Linked DNA regions of Homo sapiens: region 1 is linked to region 2. The links come from fine-mapping of genetic effects on gene expression. A gene starts in region 2. The other region holds a variant in brackets. All regions are shown on one strand. Distances are between the middles of the regions. Region 1 holds the start of MIR3945HG (MIR3945 host gene). Region 2 holds the start of ACSL1 (acyl-CoA synthetase long chain family member 1).

What was found.
Region 1: its variant is fine-mapped to the expression of ACSL1 in whole blood (TOPMed, PIP above 0.99).

Annotation. Positions count from the first base shown.
Region 1 is chr4:184,849,630-184,858,564 of GRCh38, forward strand. MIR3945HG (MIR3945 host gene) reads right to left here and starts at 6,023. Exons shown (of 3, transcript NR_132989.1): 1 at 5,840-6,023; 2 at 866-970. MIR3945 (microRNA 3945) reads right to left here and starts at 1,481; the gene lies at 1,384-1,481. RefSeq lists an enhancer at 931-1,000. The variant A/G (reference allele first, on the strand shown) is at 4,087.
Region 2 is chr4:184,821,687-184,830,621 of GRCh38, forward strand. It overlaps ACSL1 (acyl-CoA synthetase long chain family member 1), which reads right to left and starts at 4,282. Exons shown (of 21, transcript NM_001995.5): 1 at 4,230-4,282. It overlaps LOC105377587 (a long non-coding RNA gene), which reads left to right and starts at 4,485. Exons shown (of 3, transcript XR_939564.4): 1 at 4,485-5,285. RefSeq lists enhancers at 3,531-3,600, 4,851-5,354, 4,961-5,010, 5,181-5,460 and a silencer at 3,771-4,730.

The DNA.
Region 1 (8,935 bases), 28 kb after region 2:
TTCCAATCAGATATAAAATTACAAGGACAATACCTTTGTGTATAGTTCTGGCTTTTAAAATCTTTTTAATGTTTCACATATTCAAAGAACAAACTTAAAATGAATAAGGTCCGGCAAGGTTACAGGATTAAGAGCAATGTACAAATATTAATTGTATTGTATACAGTAGCAATGAGCAAACCAAAAATGAAATTAAGAAAGTAATTTCACTTAAGATAAAAATTCTAAAATACTTAGAAGTAAATTTAACAAAGATGTACAAAACTTATACTGTGAAAACTACAAAGCTTTGTTGAAATAAATCAAAGAAGAAACCAAATAAATGTAAAAACAGTCTATGTTCATGGATTGGAAGATTTAATATTCTCAAGATGTCAGTGTTAACATAACAAGATGTGTGTTATACTTTAGTTTTTAAAAAATGGCCAAAAACGTGGTGGGATAGTTGAATATGATTCATCCTTCCCAGACCCACATGACCTGAACACTGTGATGCGTTATAATGGCAGGGAGAGGAATTTTGGATTCAACCTGATCTGAATTGGAACCCTGGCTTTATTATTTACTAATGTATGTCTTTCCTCATTTTTTCTTGATGTTGCTGGTTCTGATTTTCTTCATTTGCTCAATAAGGATGATAAATAGCTACTCCTCAGGGTTGCTGTGGGGATCAGATATGATACGAGTAAAGGGCTGGCACTACTGGTTTCCTAAACCCAACTCCCTTCCATCTTGCCCATGTCCCATGCAGGTATTGGAAAACCCAAGCATTGACTCTCCAGACCAGCCTCGCACCTAAGAACGCCGTGGGATGCAGTTTCAGACAGTGAGAAATCTGCTGGGGATGCCTGGGAAAGGGACATACCTGGCAGGTGCCGCTCCATGGCCTTCTTGCTGCCTTGAATTGGGACATGAGCCTGAGTCGCAGCAGCCGTCTTGTGACTGAGAGGTGGCAAGCAGGAGGAAGAGGCTAAGAGAATAGAGACACTGTTGAGCTGCTGAAGCACAGCAAGCGGCCACTTCTCTATGCTTCTTGCTATTTGACTGTTAAGCTAGTGCAAGTTACTTTTCTGGTCAGAATGAATTCATAACTGAAACATGCTTTAAAGTATGACTATTATTATTAAATGCAGCATAAGCTTTCCATAGCTGCTACACGATCACACCCACTGCTGTCTCAGACTGACCAGTGGCCGACTAAACATGACAGCAAGTACTGTTGCCAGCCTCTGCCTTCTTATACTTGTGGAGTTTGTTTAAATCTAAATTCAGGACTCACCCTGTTAAATTTTATCTCCTTAGCTTGTCCCCTTCTTTTCAGAGATTTGCAATTCAAATTAGTATTATAACCTCAATTGATATATGGCTGTGGACCAGTCAGGAATCATTGAATCATCCCCCACTTTGGAAAGCATAAGAGGCTGTAATTGCATTTTATATCAACCCTCTCCTATGCCCTCCCCGTCACGTGCATCAACATCTCTTTTCTCTCAGAAAGACCTCATCTTATTTGAGGTGATATTTGAGTACATAGTTCCTTTTAGGGTACTGGGGACCTTTTTGGTGGTAGGGTGGAGAGTGTGCACCACAGAGACTAGTCACCAAGAGTCCCTGCAGTTAAGTCTGCGTATCCTGTGCTGGTGAAGGGTGGATGGGCTTTATGCAAATCTCTGCTTGGCTGCAGAATCTCCCAGTGAGATGAGCAAGGGTGCTTTGCAGTCAGTGTTGAAACCCCAGAAGAGCAGGAAATGATGCTGTTCCTGCCCAAAGGCAGAATGAAATGCAAGGAAAGGAGAAAAACATTATGACATAAGTATTAAGAAAGATGCTGTTTACGGGAACTCTGAAAGACTGGAATTCAGAGCCGCTACCAATTAAGAAAGTTAATGATGACTTGCAGCAGGTTTGCAGAAAGTGAAAGGAAGGTGAGGCTATTTAATTGCCACCATAACAGAAGAACTTGTAGAAAATAGGAATGGGATCACAATCATTATTAACTCATAAAAAATTTATAGGGTGCCATTTCTAATACGACACTGTGCAGGGATACTGCAGTCTAGCGTTACCTCCAGTTTAGACAGGCTGAAATACATACAGTTTCTCATCTGTATGAGATAAGGTGATATAAAATGAAGCTGATCGGGCTAGTTTATTGGATAAAACCAACAACGAAGGGAAATAAGTAACTATTTATACAACATGGTAACTATCTACATTGTTCATTAGCAGACGATGTTTGTAACTGGAGATGAAATGCATTAAGCATGTTTGGGAAAGGAATAAATGGGATGTAACCATGGAAGTCCTATGCTTAACCAGGGTGGGGAGGGGGGCAGGGATATAGAGAACTTCAACTAGACAGGCCTGGTGGAGAAAGTGTGTGTCTAAGAATTACTTGCAAAGTGAGCTGTGTCAGGGAGCATCCTGGTGCATGCTCCAAGATATGTTGGATAACAGTTGAGTACAACTCATGATGGAATTACAAAACTCCAAGATACAGTTGGATAGTTGGGTAACAGTTGAGCATCACCATGATGGAAGAGATGAAGAGACTTTTTGAATGTGTTTGAGAGGAGTGAAATGAATCCTACAATGATAATAATAATAATTGCTATTATTTTTTCAGACACGTGTGAAACCAGAAAAAAATAAATTAGGTGAAAGAATCTTCATTCCTGGTGACACCTTAGAAGAAGAAACAGACAATCTTGGATGGATTTGTTAAAGATCAGAGGATCCATAATGTCATGCAAAATGGTGGGATTGGGGGCAAACAGATCAAGTTGATGAGTGGGGTTAGCAACAGTGAGACCTGAAAGAGAAAACAAGTTAACAGAAGCCAGACTAAGTGCAGGACTAACCTGCACCCTAAGAGGGTGCAGGCTCAGGAACCAGTCCATGAGGAGTTGCACCATAGTAAGGGGTAGAGATGAACTGAAGCTCGCTCATGATTACCAGCGGTATTGGCCTCTCCAAGAACTAAAAATAACCTCCTTCTTTGTCTTGCTGTTACTTCCAAGCCACAGCCGAGTTCTCTCTCTATACTTACACCTCAGATGAATGAGCAGTGCCTGTGGCTGTGGCCAGTGTCTTTTATTCCCACCTGGTTCCTCCCAGTCTGTGTTCCATGTTGTCACTGCCCCAACTGCACAAGCCTTTTCCTAGTCCTCAATCTTTTCTCCCCACAGCAGCCCTGGGCACAGTAGACCTCCCTAGCCTTTTGAGGAACCTCTTCTGTTACCTGACTGCTGTGGTCTACGTGACCATCTTACCTCTTCCTCTGCATTTTCCTTGTGTCTGTCACTGACTCTCTCCCGTGTCCCGCTCCCCAACTGTGGGTGCCCCAGATGTGTCAATCCTCATTCTCCGATCTTCTCTCTTTATACTAGATTCTAATTCACCTTTATTCATCTATACTCCCAGAGTCAAGTTTTGATTATGTATATATAACCAAATGGCATATAACTCTATCTATCTATCTATCTATCTATCTATCTATCTATGCCATCTCATTTCATGTCTTCACGAAATATCTGTTAGCTGTTTTTCTCCAGATTATCATCCTTCCTTAAGTGCTGTTGTGGTAGCAGTGGTGGTGGTAGTAGCAGTAGTAACAGCAACAACCTCTATCATATAGTAAATGCTAACTATATCTCAGGTGCTTTAGTAAAATCTCATTTAAGCCTTTCAATGTTATACATTGATATTGCTGTTGAACACATTTTATAGAGGAGGAAACAATCTCAGCAGGTTTAACGGTGGTTCCCAGTCACACAGCTAACACAGAACACGGCCTTGAACTCAGATTTTGTCTGACTAAAGTTTGTCATCCTATTTCTGTGCTAAAGCTTCTACAGCAGTCCCTGTTGCTTACCAGGTGAGGCCCAGCATCCTCACGGACCATCCCGGATCTCCGTAACGTAGCTCCACTGATCTGCTCCAGTGACTGCCTTCTGCTCCCAGAGTGGCACCTCCTTAACCACCCTCACCTTCCTACGCAGTGAATGAAGTGCAGACATGAATCCTGAGTCTGCCATTTAGTACTTCTCTAAAACTGACTTCTTGTATTTGTAAAATACCCGCCTC[A/G]CAATCTCAGGATTGCTGTGAGCATCGTATATAATGAGTGCAAAGGGCCCGGCATAGTGCAAGGGACATGATAGGTGCATAACGAATAGGACCCACTGAGGCTGTTACTCATATTTCTGCTCTTGTGCCTTGTTCGTGTTATTCTCTACATATGAAATGTTTGTACTTCCTATTGCTCTGGCCTGACAGTCCTTAAGGGCTAAATTCCATCTTTACTAAATGTTTCCTTGGCTCTAACACACATTGATCTCTCCCCTCCCCAATTCTGAATGCACTTTCTTTTTTCTTTTTTTTTTTTTTGAGACAGAGTCTCGCTCTGTCGCCCAGCCTGGAGTGCAGTGGCGCGATCTCGGCTCACTGCAAGCTCCGCCTCCCGGGTTCATGCCATTCTCCTGCCTCAGCCTCCCGAGTAGCTGGGACTACAGGCGCCCACCACCACGCCCAGCTAATTTTTTGCATTTTTAGTAGAGACGGGGTTTCACCGTGTTAGCCAGGATGGTCTCGATCTCCTGACCTCGTGATCTGCCCGCCTCGGCCTCCCAAAGTGCTGGGATTACAGGCGTGAGCCACCGTGCCCGGCCCTCTGAATGCACTTTCTATATACACCAGGTGGCTGGTGTTATCTACTGTCTTATTCTTGAATGGCTTTGGGTAAGCGAGCCTCATAAGTTACTGGTGAGCTTGCTTGTATTGCTTCTGTGCTCCTCTCAAAGCTACTGGCACACTGTACCAAAGTGATTTGTTCATTGATTGATGGAGAAATGTAAACATTGGGACAAATCAGAGAGAAAAAAGGGCAAATTGGACATTATCTTGTTCGATTTCAGTTGGCAGTCAATGGTTTGTGTTCAAATTATCCTACAGAGGCTTGAACCAGGAGGGGAGGTTCAGAAAACAGATGGTGGGAAAGAGAACAGATCTCTGTATTATGGAGCTTTGACTTTAAAATTATTTCTCTTAAAGAAGAGATAGACCCAAAAGGAAATGATCTGAGATAAATTTCCAGGGACCAGTAAGACAGAAGTACCACTAAATATGAAGAGGCAGTGGACTGGGAATAATGAGAGAAGACCCAGGCAATCATGCCTGTAAGTTACGATAAAGAAAACAGGAAGCACATTTCGACAGAAAAACCATACTTTACATTAAAGAAGTGAGATTGTGTCTGTTGCAAGAGTGAGAGGGAAAGCCCGCAACGACCTCAGGGACCCAGTGAATTAGCTCACGGGAAGCCCAGGGCCTCTTTTGCTAGCTGCTAATGAAGGGAATTAGATAACCATGTTATTTTGAAAGAAAACAGATTATGTTTATTGAATGATCTAAAAGAAGCGAAAAGGGCTAGGTAAAGATGCCATGTTTTGGATTCTGATGTTGGGTCACACCAGGGCGCCCATTCTTCTGTATTCACAAAATGCCCAAATAGGGAGAGGTCTTGCCAGGCGCGTGAACTCGCCACTGTGGCTGAGCAACAAAGGTACATTGAAAGGAAGCGTGTGTGTTTGTGGCTTTGAGCCCCTTTTCCTATTCTGCTGAAGATTAGGAAATTATAGGTTATACTGCTTGAAATGAAGACAGAGTAAATGGTAGGAGGGTTGTAAATCACCTGCGAAGCACCGTCTTCGACCATGCCATATAGCAAGGCTACCCAAAACACTCCAGTCTCTAATTTGTTCAACTTAAAGAATAAGAGGGATATGTCAGTCAGGACCTGCTAACTGCTGTATCAGACAACCCCAGATCCCTAACGACTTACCTCACAGTCATCAGGGGCTAGACAAGTGACCTTCCACACGATAATTCAGAGATACTGCTCCTTTCCTGTAGTTCTCCAGTCCTCAGCACAGGGTCTCAAGATCATCTAGCATCGACCAGTCAGCAAATGTCGGAAGAGGAAAGATAGCTTCCTTAGTCCCTAAGAGACAGCATCTCGTTTTCACTACATTCCACTGGTGAGAACTACTCATATGGCCACACCTAGACACAGCGGTGACTGGAAAGTTAATTTGATTGTGTTTCCAGGAAAAGGAGATAGGCTTGGTGAGTCAGTCTCTCTAGAGGAAAATATGGAACTGGGTTGGATTAAAAAAAATCCAGGCTGGGCGCGGTGGCTCATGCCTGTAATCCCAGCACTTTGGGAGGCCAAGGCGGGTGGATCACCAGAGGTCAGGAGTTCGAGACCAGCGTGGCCAACATGGTAAAACTCCGTCTCGATTAAAAATTAAAAAAAAAAAATTAGCCGGGTGTGGTGGTGGGCGCCTGTAATCCCAGCTACTCAGGAGACTGAGGCAGGAGAATAGCTTGAACCCGGGAGGCAGAGGTTGTAGTGAGCTGAGACTGCACCACTGCACTCCAGCCTGGGTGACAGAGTGAGACTCCGTCTCAAAAAAAAAAAAAAAAAAAAAAAATTCAGGTAATGATTTATATGTTTCTATCAAGCAATATGCCTATAAACATGGAATGATTGAATTTTCAGTTTCAAATACATGTTTTGGGTTGTGAAGACTCAAAAAGCTTGTGGGTCTCTTTGTTTTTGTCAAAGTATATGAATAAACGAGGATTGCAGAAGTTTACTTGTGGAATGAATGCATTAGTAAATTAATGAAGCTTTCTCCTGTACTGAAAGAAGAGTATAAGGTCATGACTCATGGTCATGAGGTAGGAAATAATTCTGCTCACCAAGAAACAAGGACATTTTAAATATCTAAAAAAGCAGAAATGAGAAAGGAAGCATGAAAAATAATCATTTAGCCAACAGTTACAGCACCTACTGACAGACAGAAAGTACAGGGCATTGACATAGTTTAAATCCAGTGACTTCCGTTTTTCCTAATAGAATCAGAGTGATAATGCATTTTAAAGGTTATTTTTATTATTTCATGTCTCCAAACCATTTTCAGAGGGAAATTATCATGGCTGTCACAACAGTAGCTTAATACACAAGGTTGATGGTATTTTACAAAAGTGTCACAAGTGGATTTTAAAGTTAAAAAAAAAAAGGGGGGCTGAGTGCAGTGGCTCATGTCTGTAATCCCAGCACTTTGGGAGGCTGAGTCGGGCGGATCACCCGAGGTCACGAGTTCGAGACCAGCCTGGACAACATGGTGAAACCCCGTCTCTACTAAAAATACAAAAATTATCCAGGTGTGGTGGTGCGCGCCTGTAATCCCAGCTACTCTGGAGGCTGAGGCAGGGGAATCACTTGAACCCTGGAGGCAGAGGTTGCAGTGAACTGAGATTGCACCACTATACTCCAGCCTGGGTGACAGGGGGAGACTCCATCTCAAAAATAAAAAATAATAAATAAGGTTAAAAAAAAGATCAGTATGATATAGCTTATATGAATAGAAAAGATGATTCTCGAACAATAGCATGAGGCATATGAGTTGAAAATAAAGCCTAGAGGTCTTCACCTACAGCAGAGAAAATTTTCACTCTCCCCCACCCCACAGAAGACAGACAGACCTACCCCAAAATTAAAATGACATTAGCCCCATAAGCATGTTTCCCTCCTCAGGTAACAAAGAAGATACCTCAGTTCTAAATCCACACAGTTTTAAAGATGTCATATATTTAATGCTCTTTTTTTTTTCTTTTTTTTTTGAGATGGAGTCTTGCTCTGTCACCCAGGCTGGAGTGCAGTGGCACGATCTTGTCTCACTGCAACCTCTGCCTCCCGGGTTCAAGCAATTCTCTGCCTCAGCCTCCCGAGTAGCTGGGATTACAGGTGCCCGCCACCACATCCAGCTAATTTTTGAATTTTTAGTAGAGACGGGGTTTCACCATCTTGGCCAGTCTGGTCTTGAACTCCTGACCTCGTGATTCACCTGCCTTGGCCTCCCAAAGTGCTGGGATTACAAGCGTGAGCCACCATGCCCGGCCTAATGCTCATTCTAACTAGAAGGAAGTAAAGCCTCAGAACAGTAAAATGATTTGCCACATGTCACAGTTGCAATAAACAGTTCAAGTCCACTCCATAAAGAGATACTAGCAATCCTACGGTTTGTCGAAAGCCAGGCTTCTCGGATAACAAAATATTCTAGGTTCTTTGACAAAATGGGTGATGGGAAGTAAGGAGGAGGGCCTAGTTTCTGAAGCTGCAGGTCATGTAAGGAGCTTGCCCTCAGGCTGGCAAGGCCTAGGAATGGGGGGTGCAGGCGGCCTTCAAGTGCCTGGGGGCCAAGAGGAAGTGCTGCTGTCCCCTGAAATCTTTTTATGGGAGGAACTGACACTGTGGGTCTGTTCAAGTCCCCAAAATGGGGACAGGCTGGGGGCTGAGGACACAGACTCAAGGCCCCTCATTGGCAGTCATGGCCAGGCCAAGGAGCCCAGCTCAGGGCTGCTGGCTTATTCTCAAGCCCCCCAGGGATGTGAAGAGGGGTGCAGAGACTCACGTTTTGCACCCACGGAGTCCAGGACTGGGGTGTTAGAAGTGGGGTAGATTTAGTGGACACAGCAGATCAAGTGCATGTGAAGAGCGCCGCAGCAGCTCTGCATCTCCCAAAGGTCCCAGCTGGTCCTCTGAAGACCCGGGATCACAACTCCACATCGTCACCTCGGGGTCCCAAAGGTCCCAGCTGGTCCTCTGAAGACCCGGGATCACAACTCCACATCGTCACCTCGGGGTCCCAAAGGTCCCAGCTGGTCCTCTGAAGACCCGGGATCACAACTCCACATCGTCACCTCGGGGTCCCAAAGGTCCCAGCTGGTCCTCTGAAGACCCGGGATCACAACTCCACATCGTCACCTCGGGGTCCCAAAGGTCCCAGCTGATCCTCTGAAGACCCGGGATCACAACTCCACATCGTCACCTCGGGGTCCCAAAGGTCCCAGCTGGTCCTCTGAAGACCCG
Region 2 (8,935 bases):
AAAAATATCCAACAAATGGGGAGAAGTAACTAAATTATGGCCCATACAGCAAATAATGCAGTCATCTTCAGAACTTATTTTTTGAAGAATATGTAACAACGTGTAAAAAAGCCCACAATATAACTTAGGTGATAAAGTTAAATTGTCAAAATTGTAATCTTTAATTAACAATGTATGCTTAAAATTTGTTTATTGTATAGGGAAAAAAGACTGGAAGGAAATATAACAAAATGTTAATAGTATTTAATCTCTGGAAGAGCTTCATTTTTCCTATTTCCCAAATTTTCTCCAGTAAGTATGTATGACTCTTAAAATATGAAAAACAAATACAGCTTTTCTGTGGCAAGTGGTTTTTAGATATTAGACAGCTTTCAGAATTTTATTTAAACTTGAAGACCAGCAAATAATTCATAAAGAGAATCAGCCCAGGCACCTATATGGAACCACCAGTTTTGAGATTTTATTTTATTGTTTTTACTTTTTTTTTTCTAGAGATGGGGTCTTGCTCTGTTGCCCAGGCTGGTCTTGAACTCCTGGCCTCAAGCAACAAGCTATTTGCCTCCAGATGATCACATCCTTCTAAGGCAGGCAGCACAGGGGAGCAGGGCCCTTACTCACCTCCACTTAAGTTTTTGTCCAAGGGTGACACCCTCCAAGCCAGCCACACTTCAAGGAGTCTCCAATATTTCACCCGCCCCTCTTGATTCCTCAAAGGTCATAAGTGAATCAATACTGTGTTGTTTCTAACACAGTCAAGAACATGAAAGTGGGCTGGGTGCAGTGGCTCACGCCTGTAATCCTAGCACTTTGGGGAGGCCAAGGAGGGCAAATCGCTTGAGCCCAGGAGTTCGAGACAACTGGGCAATATGGCAAAACCGCTTCACTACGAAAAAAATACAAAAATTAGCTGGGCATAGTGATGTGCGCCTGTAGTCTAAGCTACTGGAGAGGCTGAAGTGGGAGGATCAACTGAGCCCAGGGAGGTGGAGAGGCTGCAACGAGCCATGATCATGCCTGTACTCCAACCTGGGCGACAGAGTGAGACCTTATCTGGGAAAAAAGAAAAAAAAAAGAAAGTGAAAATGTCATGATGTAGAAAATGAACATAACTCAGATTATGTGATAGTTTTCTCTTCTTGCCATTATATACAACCCAAGGCTTGCCACAAACTGAAATTTCTTATGCATTGACATTCAGCATTTGATGTAAAATGACAATCTTAGAGTCGCTGCCACAAACCCTGGTAAAACTGCCCCTGCCTTCTCCAGTTCACTAAGTTCAGCTACTCCTTCAGGGCTTGTGCTCCTTTAAAACTTTTCAGAAGCCCCTTGAAGTACCAACATGTTGAAACTCAAACTCAACTGCCTGCAGCTTCAGATCAGCTCTGGCCACTGAGAATTCTTCTCCAGGCCCCAGTGTCAAAGGCACTTTTGACCATCATGTGTTTGTCTGACTACCAAGTTGGACTGCCAACCTTCACTAAAAACTCCGGCACCTTTATCTACCTCCTGTCAGATCACCGCCTGTCAGAGAGGGAGGCCTAAAAAGGCTTCAGGATATCAACAGCTTTGAGCTGCCTTAGAGGAACTTCTTTTCTATTTTGTAGTACAGGAGCCTCATGCACTGCATCATCCAAACAAGACTCTCCACAAAACATTACTAATGGATTCTAATTGAACAGAGTTTGGTTACAAGAGACAGTAAACACAAATGGGCACCTGTTTTAAATGGCAAACTTACACAATAAATTCAATTGATCTTAAAAACTAAACATTCCTCTAAGGTTACTGACTATAAATATCTAGAAATTACTACTCCTATAGTCTTGCTATTTCCAGACAAGTGAAACTGGAAGGGAGAGAGGAGAAATACCCAGTTATAATGACAAGACAACCTTATCTTTTCTCAAAAGCCTCCCCAAACACACAACCATTTTCCACAAAACAGTTACATCAAAAAAGATGTAGCAAGACCTAGACATTAAGCATGCTAGAAAGTAGGGACAGTTTTACCAGTGTTTGTGGCAGCAACTCTGAGATAGTCATTTTACATCAAATGCTAAATGTCAATGCATAAGAAATTTCAGTTTGTGGTAAGCCCTGGGTTATATATAATGGCAACAAGAGAAAACTATCACATAATCTGAATTACGTTCATTTTTCTGCATACACCATGCATGCTGGTACACTTTCAGTTAGCCTAAACTTCACCCAAAAGTAGAGGTGGCTATGAAAACTCTACCTGCATGGTATAAATAGATACCTAACCCTACATGCATGGGTCACTTGTATCTACCTCCTAAATACCAAAAACTTAGAAGCCCAGATTTCTTTTCAGTCAGGCTGCCTGCGATAACAATAAAAATACTGCCAAAATAGGAACAACAGAGACAGGAAGGAAATATGCCAAAATGCTTATAATTGTGGGGAAGGGTAATTTTTTGTTTTGTTTTGTTTTTTACAGAGTCCTGCTCTGTTGCCCAGTCTGGAGTGCAGTGGCGGGATCTCAGCTCATCACAACTTCTGCCTCCTGAGTTCAAGCGATTCTCCTGGCTCAGCCTCTCGAGTAGCTGGGACTAGAGATGCATGCCACCACGCCTGGCTAATTATTTGTATTTTTAGTAGAGATAGGGTTTCTCCATGTTGGTCAGGCTGGTCTCGAACTCCTGACCTCAAATGATCTGCCCGCCTCGGTCTCCCAAAGTGCTGGGATTACAGTGAGCCACCACGCCTGTCTGGGTAATTTTTTTTTAAGTATTCTGTTTACAGTAAATTCAGAAAACAGAAGTCTTTAATATGTCTGTTTTAAAGGGGAGAGGTATAAGGTGTGCGGCTAACAAGTTTATTTTTCTAGTCGCAGAATTTGGACTCGTGAAAGATTTTAGTCTAATGCAGTTTGTTCACAAATATAAGGAGGGGGGCCTCAGACTAGGGAGGTGTTTTCCGAGTTGAGTCAGAACAAGAAAGTAAGTCTCCCAAGACCTGGTCCTTTTCCACTATATCACACTGCACTGTCTGGCTCCAATCTGATGGCGAGCAATGGTTCCTTAAAAAGCTCCATCTTCTCAAGCCTACCCAGCACAGACCTACAACTCAAACTTTAAGTTTTAGCCAGCCTAACCTTCCACGTCCACTTGAAAAAAGAAAAAAAAGAAAGAAACAATCAACCGGAAGCCTTTGATTTTTTTGCTAGCAAGAAGCCAATAATTGTTTTCTTTGGGACAATCACAGGTTAAGTTGTGAAATGGGTGGCAGAAACTGCAAGATTTAACCAGTTTCTCTCAACGCTAATCAAAGGTCAAGAAAATAAAAGACAGGGCAGTGAGAGTCGCGGGACTTTAGACACTCCTGCACCAAGAAGCTTAAAAGTCTTAGCCAGGGCACTAGAGAACGCTTTTAGAATGGTCACTCTTAATTATGCTCCATAACCTTGAAATTGGACTGAGTGGGGAAGGGGTTTCCACACTCTCACAACGCACCGACTGGGGGAACGCCTGTCCCCAGACTCGAATCCACGTGTCCATTCAAGTCATCTACCGCCACTCTCCGTCTACGCTGCCAGGTGACAGACATCATCTTTGCTTCTCAATTTCAAAAAATGCCAGCACTCCTTAGATCAATGACTCCACGGCCAAGTGCAAGGGCCACGGGCACTCCTCTGGAGTCACCGAGAGAATGTCTGCCTCTGGCAGCGGCCTCTGAGCTGCCTGTGGGCCTCGTGCCGCCGCGCTGCGTGGGGCCGGCATCTCAGCGGGCGCGAGTGCAGTCTCGCCCCACGCGCGGTCCGAACGCCCGCGAGCCCGGCCTCTGGGCAGGCGGGGGCCGCGGACGAGGGCAACGTCAGCGGCCCAGCTGGGCCACCTCCTCCCAGCCGAAGCGCGGCCTCCGGCTGCTTCGCCGGGCCGGTCCCCGCCGCCGCACACACAAGGGTCGGTCCCGCGCGCATCCCCGGCCGCGCACCAGCCCCGCGCCCGCGCCGCCCGCGACTCAGACACAGGAAGCTGCGGCAGCACGGGCACCCCGGAGGCCTCCGGCTGCCGAGGGAAGCGGGGCCGCGGGCAGGAGGCCGGAAAGGCGGCGCGGCCCCACGAGCCTGGGGTGGCTCACGCGCCTCCGCGGCGGCCGCTGCTCCGGGCTCGGCCCTGAAGGGCAACGTCAGCCGGCGCCTCGGCCGGGGCCCGGGCACCGCCGCGGGAGCAGGCGCGGCTCCGCACGGCGGGCGCACTCACCTCCTCCGTGGACCGGCCGCTCCGCCGCCGGCTGTCACTGCAGCCCACTCCCTGCCCCGCGCCGGCTCTGGATGCTATTTAAGGCGCCGCTGGCGCCGCCGCCTCGGCCCGCTGGTTGCGCCCCCGCCACCGCCGCGGCTGAGCCAGGATGCTGCTGGTGCGCTCGCCGCGCCGGCCCCGCCCTCCCGCGGCCCCGCCCCGCCCGCAGGCCCCGCCCCCGGCAGGCCCCGCCCCGCCGAGCGCCCGGCCGCCCTCCTGTCTGGGCGCGCGTGGCTGGCGGGTGGCCGGCGGTCGAGAGGCTGCGGCGGGCGAACGCCGCTGGAGTCGCCCAGACTGCCTCGGATTTCATAATGAATCTGAGGAAGGACAAAGGGTACATTGGACCGCCTCAGCTCAGAGGCCCCGCGGACCCTGGGCCCCGCGATGCCCGAGGGGCGGGCGGCGCCCTCCGGATCCTGCACCCTCAGCCCGTGCCCCGCTGGCCTCCTGGCAGGCCGGGCAGAATTCTGCTGCGAGGGCCCTGGAGGCAAGGGCCTTCCTCTCCGTTTTTCCTTGACACTGACGGGCGCGGCCCCACAGGGTTTCCCCCACGCTCCCTGGCCGGAAGACCTTTTCTGTCTGGTGTCTGCAGAGCCTGACGTGGGCAGCGCCCGCAGCTCGCGCCGGTGCAGGGGAGCTGAGGGCCGACTGCGCGCTGCACCACGGCGGCCACCTGCTGTGCGGTTCTGAGGGCTTCCGCGGTTCTGAGGGCTTCCGCGTCCCTGCCATGCCCATCTTGGGGCTTCAGAAGCCAACACGATGGTTTTCGGGCTCACATCCCAAAGGCTGCTCTTCCTTTTAGCACCTGGGACCTACCAGGAACCTCAACCTCTAACAACATTGGTCCCCGTTACCGTGGAGTTTGCGCCCAGCGTTCGCTGGAGGGCCGTTTGAAGAATGATTGTTGTCGTAAAGGCCTTTGATAATAATAGATACTGTTTACCCAGTGCTTGATGCCAGGCATTGCTACAAACACTGCGTACACATTATTCTATTTAATCTTCATAACCCAGTGAGGTAGGTACTGTCATTACTGTCCTTTCACAGAAGAGGAAGCTGGGGCACAGAGGTTAAATGCTAGTGAGAGCAGTACCACACTTGGCACTCAGGCTGCCCCCAGAGTGTGGGCACAACCAACGCAGGGCTATGCCTGGGCTGCAGGCAGGGGAAACTGACCGTGGTTCGCTCCAGGCCTCAGCCACACTGCAGTTCACTCCCACAAATAACTGAAGGACTTTCCCTGGGTGTCTCCCACAGTGTGCTGGGCGCAGTGGTGCAGTGGGGTGAGGACAACGCACACACCAGCAACCTCTCTAGCAGCTCAGTCCTTTTAGATCTCCATCTTCCAGATCTAGAAAAAATGGACTCCACGTTCGTTTTCACTGGTTCCCGCTTGGCTAATCCCTGGTTTTTCTGTCCAGATCTCGCCTCCCCATCCGTGATTTTGTCATCTTTGCCTCTCCTTTTTCCTCTTCTCCAACCGGTCCCTCAGCCCCAGAACCTCTGCAGGCACCTCCCAAGTTCTGTGGTCTATTGTTTTCAAGGGCTGCTGGAACGAAGTACCACACACTAAGTGGCTTCAACAACCGAAATGTATGGTCTGTCCTGGTTCTGGAGACTAGAAGTACAAAATCACGGCGTGGGAGGGCTGGCTGCTTCCGAGGCCCATGAAAGAGCATGTGTGCCCGGCCACTCTGACTTGCAGATGCCCATCTTCTCCCTATGTCTCCTCACACCATCTTCCCTGTGGTGTGTGTGTGCAAATCCCTTCTTTCTATAAGGACACCAGTCATACTGGACTAGGGCCCACCCGAATTGCCTCATTTTAACTTGATGACCTCTGTAATCATGAGGTAATGTCCAAGTAAGGTCCCATTCTAAGATACCTGAATGCCCAGGCACGGTGGTTCATGCCTGTAATCCCAGCACTTTGGGAGGCCGAGGCAGGCAGATCAACTGAGGTCAGGAGTTCAAGACCAGCCTGGCCAACATGGTGAAACCCTGTCTCTACTAAAAATAAAAAAATTAGCGGGGCATGGTGGTGCGTACCTGTAGTCCCAGCTACTCGGGAGGCTGAGGCAGAAGAATTGTTTGAACCCAGGGAGGTGGAGGTTGCAATGAGCCAAGATCACGCCACTGCATTCCAGCCTGGGAGACAGAGCAAGACTCTGTCTCAAAACAACAACAACAACAACAACAAACCCCTGAACATATGAACTTGGGGAATGTGGGGGTGACAATTCAACCCGTAACATGTGGATGGTCGTCACTGGCTGTCTCACCTTACGTCTTCTCCTCAAGACACTTTTCTTTTAAACTGGGTGCCTCTCCCTGGGCTCTAGCCCTTAATGAGGTGATTTCCAACTCAAGGCTGGGAAAGGCACACAACCCAGTATCAGACCTGAGTTCACACTCCTTCTGGCAGGAACTTCTAGGTGACATTGGGAAGCAACTTCATTCCTTAGAACCTAGATTTCTCCTCAGGCTATAAGGGGGCTTGGCTAAATAATCTCTTAGGTCTCTTTCAGCACACACACTTAAAAAAAAACAAAAAAGTTTTTATCTAATCACTCCAAAAAGTTTTACAATGTATGGGGTTGTCTTGTGGACTTGAGATAGAGACTTTGATGGGAGGCAGTATTGCATAGTGGTTAAGAACACAGGCTTTGGGGTGGGTGAATCCACATCAAGCCTCATTGCATCCTCCTTAAATCAGGAATAATACCTACCTCAGACAGGTGTCATAGGATTGACAGCCACGCCCTTGGCGTTCTCATTAAATGAAGATTCCAGACTCTATAGTTGGGAGTTTGTGACTTAGGTAAGAAACCAGTCTCTTTTTTTGAGACGGAGTCTCACTCTGTTGCCCAGGCTGGGGTGCAGTGGTGCGATCTCGGCTCACTGCAATCTCTACCTCCTGGGTTCATGCCATTTTCCTGCCTCAGCCTCCCAAGTAGCTGGGACCACAGGCACCCACCACCACACCCGGCTAGTTTTTTGTATTTTTAGTAGAGATGGGGTTTCATTGTGTTAGCCAGGATGGTCTCGATCTCCTGACTTCGTGATCCACCCGCCTTGGCCTCCCAAAGTGCTGGGATTACAGGCGTGAGCCACCGCGCCCGGCCTTTTTTTTTTTTTTTTTTTTAAATGAAGGACATGATTGTTTTTAAAAATTGGGCCAGGTGCGGTGGCTCACACCTGTAATCCCAGCACTTTGGGAGGCAAATGCAGGAGGATTGCTTGAGTCCGGGAATTCAAGACCAGCCTGAGCAACATAGTGAGACCCTCCGTCTCTAAGAAAAAGTTTTTAAAAATTGTGTCACAGTGATCACAATGACCACTATTCACATCATAATGGCTTTTCTTTTGGCTATTAACACTGCAGTGTTTTTGTATACTGAAATGTGTCTGTGGGACCAACAGCATTAAAGAATAAAGATCCTAGATGAAAATAAACACTAATAATCCTGGTGTCCTCTCCAATAGAATTAATCTAAACTCCTTATGAATCAGTAGCATTATAATGTTATGTAGTTATGAGGAATAGAATTCTTTTAGAAGCAGGCAGCATGAACTTATACTTCCTTGTACTTACTTCTTTAAGAAACCAGTCTTAACCCTCCTTTCTACTGTCTTTTTTTTCAAGCATCTCTCTAGCCAAGGGAATAAGAGCCAATTGGATATTGTAGTGGTGCAAATTTCCTAGCGGAAATTTGAGTCTTTTTTCGGTCACTCCTGCCCTTGTTACATTTTGGCCTGATTAAAATGTTGTGGCTAATTCTGGCTAAATCCACATTGACATCTGCCTAACACCGATTGATCAATCTCCTGGAGAAGCTAAAGAGAACTGGGCCGGGTGCAGTGGCACATGCCTGTAATCCCAGCATGTTGGGAGGCCAAGGTCGGCGGATCACTTCAGCCCAGGAGTTTGAGACCAGTGTGAGCAACATGGCGAGATCCTGTCTCTACAAAAAATACAAAACTTAGCCCAGCATGGTGGTGTGCACCTGTAGCCTATAGTCCCAGCTACATGGGAGGCTGAGGTGGGAGGATCTCTTGAACCCAGGAGGTCGAGACTGCAGTGAACCGTGATTGCACCATTGCACTTTGGCATGGGCAACAGAGCAAGACCACATCAAAAAAAAAAAAGAAAGAAAGAAAAGAAAAAAAGAATCGAAGTCTTTCTGGGTCAAGCTGATTAGCAGGTTTACAGTGGCCTTGTCTCAAAAGTTCCCACTTGTGATTAGGAACTACAAAGCTGTGATTATTATTAATCTTCTGCACCTATTGCTTTTGAGCATGGCTATCTGAAGTATAGCCACATCAATTAATAATGGCCGATGAGCTTTTAATTACAGACCTCGGTAATTGGCTGGTTAAAGGAAGATTGGCATCAGTAACTGAGTTCTTTTTGTTCAATCCATTTTGGGACTGCAACTATATTAGGCATACATCCATGCCCCCATGAAACTGTAAGGGACTGGAAGGAGGCAGTGTGTCCCGTGAATCCTCATGAACCATCCCAGTCTTTCTTACTCCCCTGCACGTCCTCTTCATTTACACAGAGTAGGTATTCAATTGTTGAGTTGGACACATTTTTCTAACTACTCGATGTCAACCAAGGGTAGATCCACGTTTGGAGCCTTAAACTTACACAGTTTAGGGAA